Linked DNA regions of Homo sapiens: region 1 is linked to region 2. The links come from fine-mapping of genetic effects on plasma protein levels. A gene starts in region 2. The other region holds a variant in brackets. All regions are shown on one strand. Distances are between the middles of the regions.

Region 1 (5,301 bases), 35 kb after region 2:
TAAAATAGCATTTACTATTTCTGTAGGACGAATAGCTCAGTAGCCGAAAATGATTATAGAGTTGAGTAGATCTTTTTCAGAGATAACAGCAGGGGGCTGGGCTCCACATGGGGACAGTCTGTGCTGATGGAGGTTTGTGAAGCAGAAATGAGACCCCAGAGCTGAGGCCTCGTCTTCCAGCTACAAGACCATGCCAGGCAGGGAAGGGGGAGGGATAAGGATGGAGAGAAAGGAGGAAGCTTGGGAGCAGGACCTTATTATAGAAATGGGCCTCTGTGGGGTAGTGGTTTAGAGCCTCATGACTGGGGAACAGTGTTGGAGCCTGTGGCTCAGCCACCAGGAGAATCACCATATACTAATGCTCACCCTGGGTTTGAGGCAAGGCTAGAAGAACTTCCTTACCTCCTAAGGATAGATAGGCTTGACCAAGAGGGCCATAACCTTCCCCTGTGCTGGACTACACTTTAGATGGGCTTCTTTCAGACTCTAGAGCCCTGATATGGTTTGGCTTTGTGTCTCCACCCAAATCTCATCTCCAATTGTAATCCCCACATATTGAGGGAGGGAGATGATTGGATCATGGGGGTGGTTTCCCCCATGCTGTTCTCTTGATAGTGAGTGAGTTCTCATGAGATCGGATGGTTTTATAAGTGTCTGGCATTTAACCTGCTAGCACTTCTCTCTCCTGACACCATGTGAAGAAGGTCCTTGCTTCCCATTTGCCTTCCACCATGATTGTAAGTTTCCTGAGGCCTCCCCAGCCATGTGGAACTATGAGCCAATTAAACCTCTTTCCTTTATAAATTACCCAGTATCGAGTAGTAGCTATACAGTAGTATGAGAATGGACTAATATAGGCCTTGACTTCTCTTTTCTTGAAGCATTTACTTTAGAAACTTGCAATTGTAAATTCTTTCTCTGTCCCTGTGAGATGTAAATCTTCCAACCTGTTGCTAGTTTTGCAACCCAGGACCACTTTTCTCAAGGACCTGACATCTCTTTGAAATGTAATCATGGAAAGGAATAGTGTCTCTGTCTCTCAGTCTCTGTGGAAGGGTTGGAGCCTAACTCCAGTAAACACCCATTAGCAAACACAGATGCCTAATCACATGGACCAACCTCCCCACAAACATCTTCCAGTACTTTTCCATTAGCTCATCCCAGCTCTTAAAAATCGTCCCATTGTTTGTTTCAGCAGAGTTAGTTCAATCTCTCTCCCTTATTGTAGCCTTGAATAAAGGCTTTGCCTTTCAAACTCTGTCCTGCCCATTTTTCTTTGACATGTTCAGATGTTGGCAAGGCTGAAAACTGCAGGGGATCTGGTTGTGATAATCCAGGTAAGCCACAGGGAAAGCACAGGTAAGGCAGAAGCAGGGAAGTGAGGTGAGGGGTGGTGTATCCATGAAAGGAGGGTTCCAAAAATGAATGATAAGAATGGTCATGTCACACCAGGAGTGTGGTACTGTGTGCACCCGTTGGCAAGCGACTTAATGAGATTGCTTTAAACATGGCTTGATTTTAATTTGTAGAACAAAATTGAATCCATGATTGATCCACAAGGCCCTGTGAAGTGTTTTGTAAAAATATACACTAAGTCTTTATGGTCAGAGTTTCTTTGATGCCGGGAGTTTCTGCTGACCTATATTCAGTGTTATAAGTAATTGGATTTTTCTTTTTAACCAGCAGTTGCAGACTGGCATTTGGTCTGCTAATTTATCGTGTTTCTGGGATGTCCAGTGTTCTAAGAATTCTTATTTTTTATCCAAATGGCTTCAAGTGGAGCACATATTTCCAAGATGACCACTGGTCCTTTCCAGCCTACTGCCTCTGCCCTGGCTTCTAGCAGCATAAGACTTGGGCCTTCCTCATATGTTCCCTCCTAGCTAACCTGACTTTAGCCAGTATAGATTTTTCTTCATTTCTCCATTCCTGAAGTATGGCTCCCTCCTTTCTCTTAAGCATGTCTTTCAGTCTTATACTACTTCTTTTCTTAATATTGAGTCTATTTGTATACATGGATAGTTTAATAGGCATCTCATTTAAGGTTCTCAAATAAGTATACAAGCTAAAAAGTCACCCCCCATCCTTCTCCACCCACAGAGTGTACATTGTGTTGGGTGATATCATGGGGAAAATACCAGGAGCAAACCTTAGCTGCAGGAATCTCTTTTCTCTTGTGTCATTGACTTCTTATTAGAAAGACATGTGTTTTGGTTACAAGGTTGGCAATTCCATCATGCAGCAGTGTGAATGGGATGTAAGGAGATATTTTTAATTTTACCTCCTAATACAACCATATCAAATCCCATTTCCAAATGAGGAAATGAGGACTTGTAGGCACAGATATCTGGAAACAAAGCCTATTTAAAATTGCTTAGTAGGAATGACAGTTTTCCTTCCGACCCATTTTCAGTGACAGCCTGTCACTCTTGACTGAGAGATCTCCAACCTACAAATGTTGGTGGGTTATTTATTTTGCAAGCAGCCCTCCTGCTGCCATACAATGGCAAGTCTTGAGGGGGAAAGGGTTATCATTTTCTTTCCTTTGGATCTGAGTTACTGGCTCTGTTGCTCTAGAGGACTATGCCTTTTAGACCATGGCGGTGCTTTTGCTTCATGGACTTGGCACCCTGCCACGGTCTTCCTGGCATTCAACCTCTGCTTGCCCTTGTTTCTGGCTTTGTC[G/A]TTCCCACTCAGCACTGACAACTTGTAAGAGCCTCAGCACATTATATGACCACGATAGGACCACATGGATTCCACTGCTGGATTTCAAACTCCAATAATTAACCTTGTATTTCTTCAAGTTGAGCAGTGATAACTGCCTATGAGATGGCCAAGTTGGCCACCTGGCCTGCCTGGGTTACTCTTGGTCTGGTTGGCTCATGACTTACACTTAGCCTTTTGTGATCTTGGTGTAGGGAGGGCAGAACTGTGCGTTTTCTAAGAGAAGCAGGGTAATATGATTAATAAAAGGTGAAGATTTACGTAGAGGAATCGAGCACCTGTTATCATACAGTCTAGGAAAAGTCCAAGCAAACCAGGCAGGCTGTTGCTTTGAGCACATGGGGGTCTACATTCTAGTTTTTTCTCATTTTCTAGAAAAGAAAACTAGACACTCAGATTAAGGAAAATGTCCAAGGTGCTCTAACATTAGTGTGTCAGAGGCATTGAAATCAGAGCAACTCCATCTTGAATAGGTGCTGGGTAAAATGAGGCAGAGATCTACTGGGCTGCCTTCCCAGGTGGTTAAGGCATTCTAAGTCACAGGATGAGATAGGAGGTCAGCATAAGATACAGGACATAAAGACCTTTCTGATAAAACAGGTTGCAGTACAGAAGCTGGCCAAAACCCACCAAAATCAACATGGTGACAAGGGTGACCTCTCGTGGTCCTCACTACTGCACTCCCACCAGCACCATGACAGTTTACAAATGCCATGGCAACATCAGGAGGTTACTCTCTATGATCTAAAAAGGGGAGGCATGAATAATCCACCCCTTGTTTAGCATATCATCAATAAATAACCTCAAAAATGGGCAACCAGCAGCCTTTGGGGCTGCTCTGTCTACGGGGAGTAGCCATTCTTTTATTCCTTTACATTCCTAATATACTTGCTTTCACTTAATGGACTCGCACTGAATTCTTTCTTGCGTGAGATCTAAGAACTCTCTCTTGGAGTCTGGATCGGGACCTCTTTCCAGTCACAAGCATGTCACCTGTTTAAGAGCTGTGGCCCCCTGGCAGGGCATCCCCATCCCTGGAGCTTTCTGGCTATTCTATAAAGTGAATGGAATGCCTGGCAATTGTAAAGCACTTCCCCGTCCATAAGAGCCAGAGCCACAGAGCTCGAAGTTTGAGTATTTTGGTGCTTGTGGTTGGTACTAAACACTGGTAGAAAGGGTAAAAAACAGTTTCCTGTGCTTTTCTTACCTACATGGCCAACAGTATATTGCTTTGTGTGGGAAGCCTGTAGAACTGAACCAGGACTCCTCCAAGAAACATGAGCCACGCGTGGTTCTCCTGGCATTGCTTTGACGCTGTGGGTGTGGATGCAATGAGAAACAGGGTCAGGTTTTGAAACCATCCCCACAGGGTTGACGGGAATTGCATGCCAGGTTCTGGGTACAAATACAGTTATAATTCAGCGTTAATCAGGCTGCACCCTGGCCCAGTTCCTTGTTGCAGTAGGTCATGTACCGTAACCAAGTACCCTGATTTTTCTGAGGTGGTTTAATTACTTTTTTCTCTTCTCTTCTCCTTTCCCCTTTCAGCCTGCTTCCTACCTAGCCCTTTTTGAAATGCAAAATAACCTCTCACCTCCCCCTCACCACACATTCCCTACAAGGCAAGGTCATCTACGTGCCCCAGTGATCTCTTCTCCAGAATTGACAGTCAATTTGCAGATCAAAGCACATCTCCACGGAACTCCCACTTCTGGGGTGGCCTCAGGAGGACATGGTGAAAACACGCCCACTTGGCCACTTTTACAACTTATTTCTGCCCAGGAAGGCACCAACTCAACTGTATGCCAACTCAGCTGTTTGGTAGATAAGACACCAGGCTAGCAGGGGGACTTCCTGCCCTTGCTCACTTCCCCTTTAACCTTATAAACATGTCTGCTTTTTGCTCCAAAGATGAAGCAGCACACTTAAAGCAGGACACTTTGTGTCTTTCCAAGCTAGCTTCAAAAATAAATTCACTTTTCTTGTACCAGGCCTGGATCTTGTTAATTGGACTCTGCTGCAGTGAGTGGCTAACCAGTTCCTCAGTTACAGTAGCACTAGATCCTGACATTTGCTTCCCCACCGTTCCCCTAGATAGGATCTCTGACATTAAGGCCAGAAGACTGTTTAAGAATTGATTTGCATCCCCATTGTTCCTATAGACACTTAAGATGTTTTTCAGACACACCTCCCCAGAATTCCAGCCACCAGTTGGAAGTCTCCCACAGGGGAACAGGATCAGCATGAGAACACAGCTGCTTCCTCTCCCCTTCCTATGACTTCACCCTGTACTCTTGATCTCCACACTTCTGCCCACTCCAAAGCCCTCAAAAACCCAAGCCTCAACTTCCTTGGGGAAATGGCTTTGAGGTTCCCTCCCATCTTCTCGTTCTGTGACCCTGTGGTCAAGGTGTTTGAACCAGAGCAACTCCATCTTGAATAGGAGCTGGGTAAAATGAGGATGAGACCTACTGGGCTGCATTCCCAGACGGTTAAGGCATTCTAAGTCACAGGATGAGATAGGAGGTCAGCACAAGATATAGGTTATAAAGACCTTGCTGATAAAACAGGTTGCAA
Region 2 (5,354 bases):
CAAAACTCCGTGTCAAAAAAAAAAAAAAAAAAAAAAAGAAAAGAAAAGAAAAAAAAAATTGCCCCCTTCCTCACCTTCAACTCTTTTGCGTGGCAGGTATCTTGTTTTCACTTTCCAGTTCTTCCACCCCAGCCTGTGTCATGAGGTCCGCGATATTCTTTTCCAGATCATCAATGCGACTACTCATATCATCAAGTGCTGAAGTTAAAGACAACGCGTGCCAACATCTCATTGAGCCTTTTTCCTCCCGTCCCTGCAGACTACAGCCTTAAACACAACGACTTTAGGGAAACTGGTCTTCCAATTTTCTTTCGACACTGTTACACGCTGGTGGGTAAGAGTACAGGACTGTGGGGCATGGCTACCCCGCATCGGATTCCAGCCCTGACCCTTACTAGTGATGGAACCCCTAAACCTCAATTTATTCATTTGCTAAAGATGATAACACTACAACCCACTCATAAGGTCATGCTGAGCATCAAAAGACACACACAAAAGCGCTTAGTTCACAGTGCATGGTCCACCACACCAGCTATTAGGATTGGTAGACGTATGCTCCTTGAGCCAGGAGTCTAACTCAGCTTTGCCCCTAGCTCTCGGCGCAGTCCTTCTCAGAAACACAGTACAATCCAAGCTCAAATTCTACAAGTGAATGGCTGAAGCTAGCCTGAAAACTACTCATTTATCCCCACCACTGCCCGGCAAATAGGCTCCAAAGGCCCACAGGAGGCCGACTGCAGATAAAAAGGATATTTCTCCCAATGATCTGGTCAGACATGGTCTGAAATTTATCTTGCATCTGCTGCAGGAGTGTCTGCACCTAAGAAAAACCGAAACAAACAAACACGGTCCACATCGATCCTGAGACAACTTCCTGGGATCAGGACGCAAGCCCTGGTCCCGGGGTTCCAGCCCCATTTCTGCCTCTGGACAGCTGTGCGGCCTTCAGCAAGATCTTCCTTCTCTGGGCTTCCGTTTTCCAACCTGTCCAATTAGACTGCTGGGCTGGGGAGGCCGCTGCGACTCAAAGCTCAGGGTCTTTAGGTTGTTTCTGCCGGGCTGGGGCACCCGGGGGTGTGTGAGGAGTTGAAGGGCGGGGAGGGTGTCAGAGGTAGGCGGGAGGGACCCGGAGGGCGTTCGCGACAGATGAATGGGGCTACTGGAAGGGGTCGGGCTTGGGGGCGCCCGCGGGGAGACTGGCCCGCACCGAGCGCCCCGGGGGTCAAGGTGGCCGGGAGCCTCGGCCAGAGACGCTTCCAGAAACGGGGCCTCGGCAGACGCCACGCGCGGCCGCGGTGGGCGCGCCTCTGTCCAGCAGGGCTTGGCCCGGCGCCGCCCGGGAAGGCCGCGGCCTCCGGCCCTCACAGCCGTCCCTTACCACCGAGGTGAGGTCCTGCACGGTCTTGGGGTCAGTCTCGGCCATCTCCCCGATGCCCAGCTTGGCGGTGATGTCTCAGACCGTAACCTACACTTCCGTTTGTCCGCTCAGTCGCCCCGGGCCGCTGCTTCTCGCGACGAGACTGGCAGCTCGCGGGACCGCGGGGCATTATGGGAGTAGTAGTTTCTCCCGCACCGGAAGGGCCTCGAGGCCGCGCGCTTCCGTTCCAAGGAGCGGCCCCACCCCACTCTCCCCGCCTTCTTTCGCATAGCCCCTCCCCTCCCTCTATGCCCCGCCCCTCACGCAGCGCGCCGTCAGTGGGGTGGAAAGTGAGACCAACTCAGAAATGGAGCAATAGAGGCAGGGAGTGGTCTTGGCCTCTCTTCCAGGCTGTAGTCAGTCGAAAGACGGCTCTGGGGTTTCTTTGGCCTGTCGGGACGAACTTACAGAACTTTTGCCCTTCAACAAGCCCCACTGTACCCTTGTAACTGCCCCCAAGCCAAGGAACATGACCCACCCCTACCCGCCCCGGGAGCCCCATGGCTCCTGTCCTGTTCTGTCATCTCCACCCTATGAAGGTGGCCAGCGTCTGGAGTTTAGCCCAGTAGGTTCATTGTGCCCGTCAGGTTCATATGAGGGGATTCAGACAGGAAGCTGTCCATCATGCCTGGCTTCTTTCACTCCACGCAATGCCTGCTGTTGAGTGGGGAAGGCTTCCGGCATCAGGGTTAGACTGTGGGTTTGGGTGTTGAAGGAGGTGGGCACTGCTGATTTGGAACCTCAAGTTCCAACCCCACAGGTGGTCTTTAGGATTGGGTCTCATGGCAAGGGGATAGGAGAGTCCTTGACTGCGGGCCTGGCATGTTCTGGAAACTTTCACACATCTCATTTAAGGACTGTGCTATGTGAGGGGTCAGCTCCAGTTTGACTTTAGCTAGGGAGAGGCTGTAAGGTGTTAGAGCTGTTACGGGAAAGGGTCCTGATCCAGACCCCAAGAGAGGGGGTTCTTGGATCTCATGCAAGAAAGAATTCAGGGCGAGTCTGTAAAGTGAAAGCAAGTTTAAGAAAATGAAGGAATAAAAGAATGGTTACTCCATAGACAGAGCCCTGAGGGCTGCTGGTTGCTCATTTTTATAGTTATTTCTTGATTATATGCTAAACCAGGGGTGGGTGATTCATGCCTCCCCTTTTTAGACTATATAGCGTAACTTCTTGACGTTGCCATGGCATTTGTAAACTGTCATAGCGGTAATGGGAGTGTAGCAATGAAGACAAGCAGGGTTCACTCTTATTGCCATCTTGGTTTTGGTGGGTTTTGGCCGGCTTCTTTACCGCAAGCTGTTTTATCAGCAAGGTCTTTATGACCTGTACCTTGTGCTGACCTCCTATCCCATCCTGTGACTTAGAATCCTTTAACTGTCTGGGAATGCAGCCCAGTAGTTCTCAGCCTCAGTTTACCCAGCTCCTATTCGAGATGGAGTTGCTCTTGTTCAAACGCCTCTGCCAGACCCACCAGTGTCTCTAACAAACCCGGAATCCAGTTGGCCTTGAGGCATGAGACTTCAACTCCCTTTACCACCCCTTCCCCCTCACTCACACCTTTGCCCCTCACCCTTCACACCTCATCCTTTCCTATAGAGAGATCTTCCTTTCTGTGTAAGTATACACAACTTTTTTGTAATTGGCTGTTGTCAACTGGTATTTGGCTAGTGCTTTACCCGACTACTTGAAATAAAAATATCTCAGTGTTTTAAGTTAATCCTCAGAAGACCCTGTGATATAATTATCATAATTTTACATTTTTGAGAAAACAGATGCAGAGGCGTTAAGAAACTGGAACAAGGTCATCAAATTAAGGAAGTAAGAGACGCAGGACTTCCTGACTCTGCATCTTCTCCTTTTTTCTCACCATTCTAGAATTCTCTGAGTTTTTTGAGCTTAGAGCAGAGTTTCTCAAGAGCTGCAATACTGGCATTTGAGTCAAGTCGTTCTTTATTGTTGGTGGTGGAGGGGGCACCCTGTATATTGTAGGACGTTGGGCAGCATCTCTGACTTCTACCTACTAGATGCCAGTATCTCAGTTTTCTTAAAAGACTTTTTTTTTTTTTTTTTTTTTTTTGAGATGGAGTCTTGCTGTGTTGCCTAGGCTGGAGTGCAGTGGCACCATGTCGACTCACTGCAACCTCCGCCTCCCCGGTTCAAGCGATTCTCCTGCCTCAGCCTCCTGAGTAGCTGGGATTACAGGTGAGCACCACCATGCCCAGCTAATCGTAAAAGACTTTTCATAAAACTTCAGAACTCCTTAAAAACTAGTGAATAGCCAAGGTGAAGAAAGCCCTCAGGCTTCTGACTTTAGACCCCAATCCCTGGGACTCCCACACTCAGCAAAGAAAGCTGGGTGCCTGCACCCTGGATCTCTGAGCAAACCTGTCTTATGGCTGTGGGCAACTCAGGAACATGAATTAGCACGAGAATCTGGAGTTTTTCTTTCCTTTTCTGGTAAGACACTTGTGGTTTTTTTTTTTCAAATTCCAATTGGAAATTTGCTTTACATGAACAACAAACAAACTTGATACTCTTTTAGTGGAGGCATTATTTGTTCCTTTATTTTTTGCACTTAAACAGACAGGCAGTATGCTTTCTCTGTGTGGAGACCAAGGTCTGTTAAAGGGCTGCTTTTCACGGAAGCTTCACTAATTTATACTCATGGCTGACATACTCACCTTGTGGGGCTGACACACCGAACCTAACTGAATATTGTCCCATTAACAAAACTAATGTATTACGTGTAAGGCACCAGTAATTAACCTTTAAACTTCGGTTTTGAACAACTCTCATTTTTAACCTTTATTTAAGTGTCATAGTTGTCTTACCTCCTCTTGGCATTTTTTTTTTAAAGCTCTTCCTAGATTAATTGCATGTTGTAACTCCCTTTTTCCATTCAAGACAGTTTTGTTTTACGTGCGCTTATTATGGTACTTTTATAATTGCTTTTTGGTTCTCTGGGCCATTCTTTTGACATGCCTCCTTTCTTGGATCTGTACTATGATAGGTGGCTGGGCATGGTGGCTCATGCCTGTAATCCCAGCACTTTGGGAGGCTGAGGCAGGCAGATCACTTGAGACCAGGAGTTCAAGACCAGCCTCGCCAGTGTGGCGAAACCCCATCTCTACTAAAAATACAAAAATTAGCTGGGCTAGGTGGCGTGCACCTGTAATCCCAACTATTCAGGAGGCTGAGCCAGGAGAATCGCTTGACCTGGGGAGGCAGAGGTTGCAGTGAGCCGAGATCTATCCCCTGCACTCCATCCTGGGCAACAGATTGTGACTCTGTCTCAAAAAACAGTAATAATAAAATACACTATGGAAGGTGTTGGTCTGTCCATGTGACCACATGCAATGAGGTGCTTTGTGCGTTTGCCTTGTGTGAGCAGCGATGGAATGATCCTAGCGGGGCCTTGGAGGAACTGGAATGTTCTTTGCCTAGTTGCACCTGCGTCAGCTCTGTAGGCCCAGCCCTGGGGCCCAGCAGCTGCTCCCCTGGTTTGCTTTCCTCCCAGGTTGCCTCATGCTGCTGCTGAGCAACCTTCACCTGATGGGCGGTGCCACAGCAGGGTCAGTGAAGGGTGCCCCTTCCTTCTAGTGACCTGGGCTGCCCTAGCCCTGGCCCTTCAGTAGCCATTCCAAACCTTTCTGGTCCCCCCAAATCCAGGACTTTATCCCCTTCACCCTCAGAGGATGACCTTATATTCTATTTTGTGGAGAAAATGGAGACTGTCCATCAAAACCCCTTAACTCCCGTCCTGCGTGCATTCCTAAGTTCCTACATTAACCCCCGTGTCACTAGCTAACGATCCTTTCTGTCTCAGGAAGCAGTGTTCTTCCTCGCGCACAGGGCTCTGCGTTTGTCTAAGGCAGAGAGACCTGGGCCCTGATCCCATTCTCTTTCCTCAACTCCAGGAACTTGCTTCCTGCAT

Alleles and levels. Alleles are on the strand shown, and positions count from the first base shown. The strength of an association depends on the size of the effect and on how common the allele is.
For the plasma level of the protein whose gene starts at base 1,522 in region 2, allele A in region 1 goes with a higher level than allele G (moderate association).

The links. PIP is the chance, under the fine-mapping model, that this variant and not a neighbour inherited with it causes the effect. Protein levels are from antibody-based Olink assays in UK Biobank. Linkage for the fine-mapping came from a reference panel and not from the study's own genotypes, which makes the PIPs less certain.
Region 1: its variant is fine-mapped to the plasma level of the HSBP1 protein (UK Biobank, PIP above 0.99).

Annotation. Positions count from the first base shown.
Region 1 is chr16:83,768,845-83,774,145 of GRCh38, reverse strand. The region is part of intron 11 of CDH13 (cadherin 13); the gene reads right to left. It overlaps CEDORA (CDH13 antisense oligodendrocyte and neuron associated lncRNA), which reads left to right and starts at 1,197. Exons shown (of 4, transcript NR_188499.1): 1 at 1,197-1,337. RefSeq lists an enhancer at 4,534-4,673. The variant G/A (reference allele first, on the strand shown) is at 2,686.
Region 2 is chr16:83,804,146-83,809,499 of GRCh38, reverse strand. It overlaps HSBP1 (heat shock factor binding protein 1), which reads right to left and starts at 1,522. Exons shown (of 4, transcript NM_001537.4): 1 at 1,379-1,522; 2 at 754-820; 3 at 75-195. The coding sequence starts at 1,423. The coding sequence ends at 77. RefSeq lists silencers at 1,086-1,375, 1,393-1,569 and an enhancer at 1,227-1,728.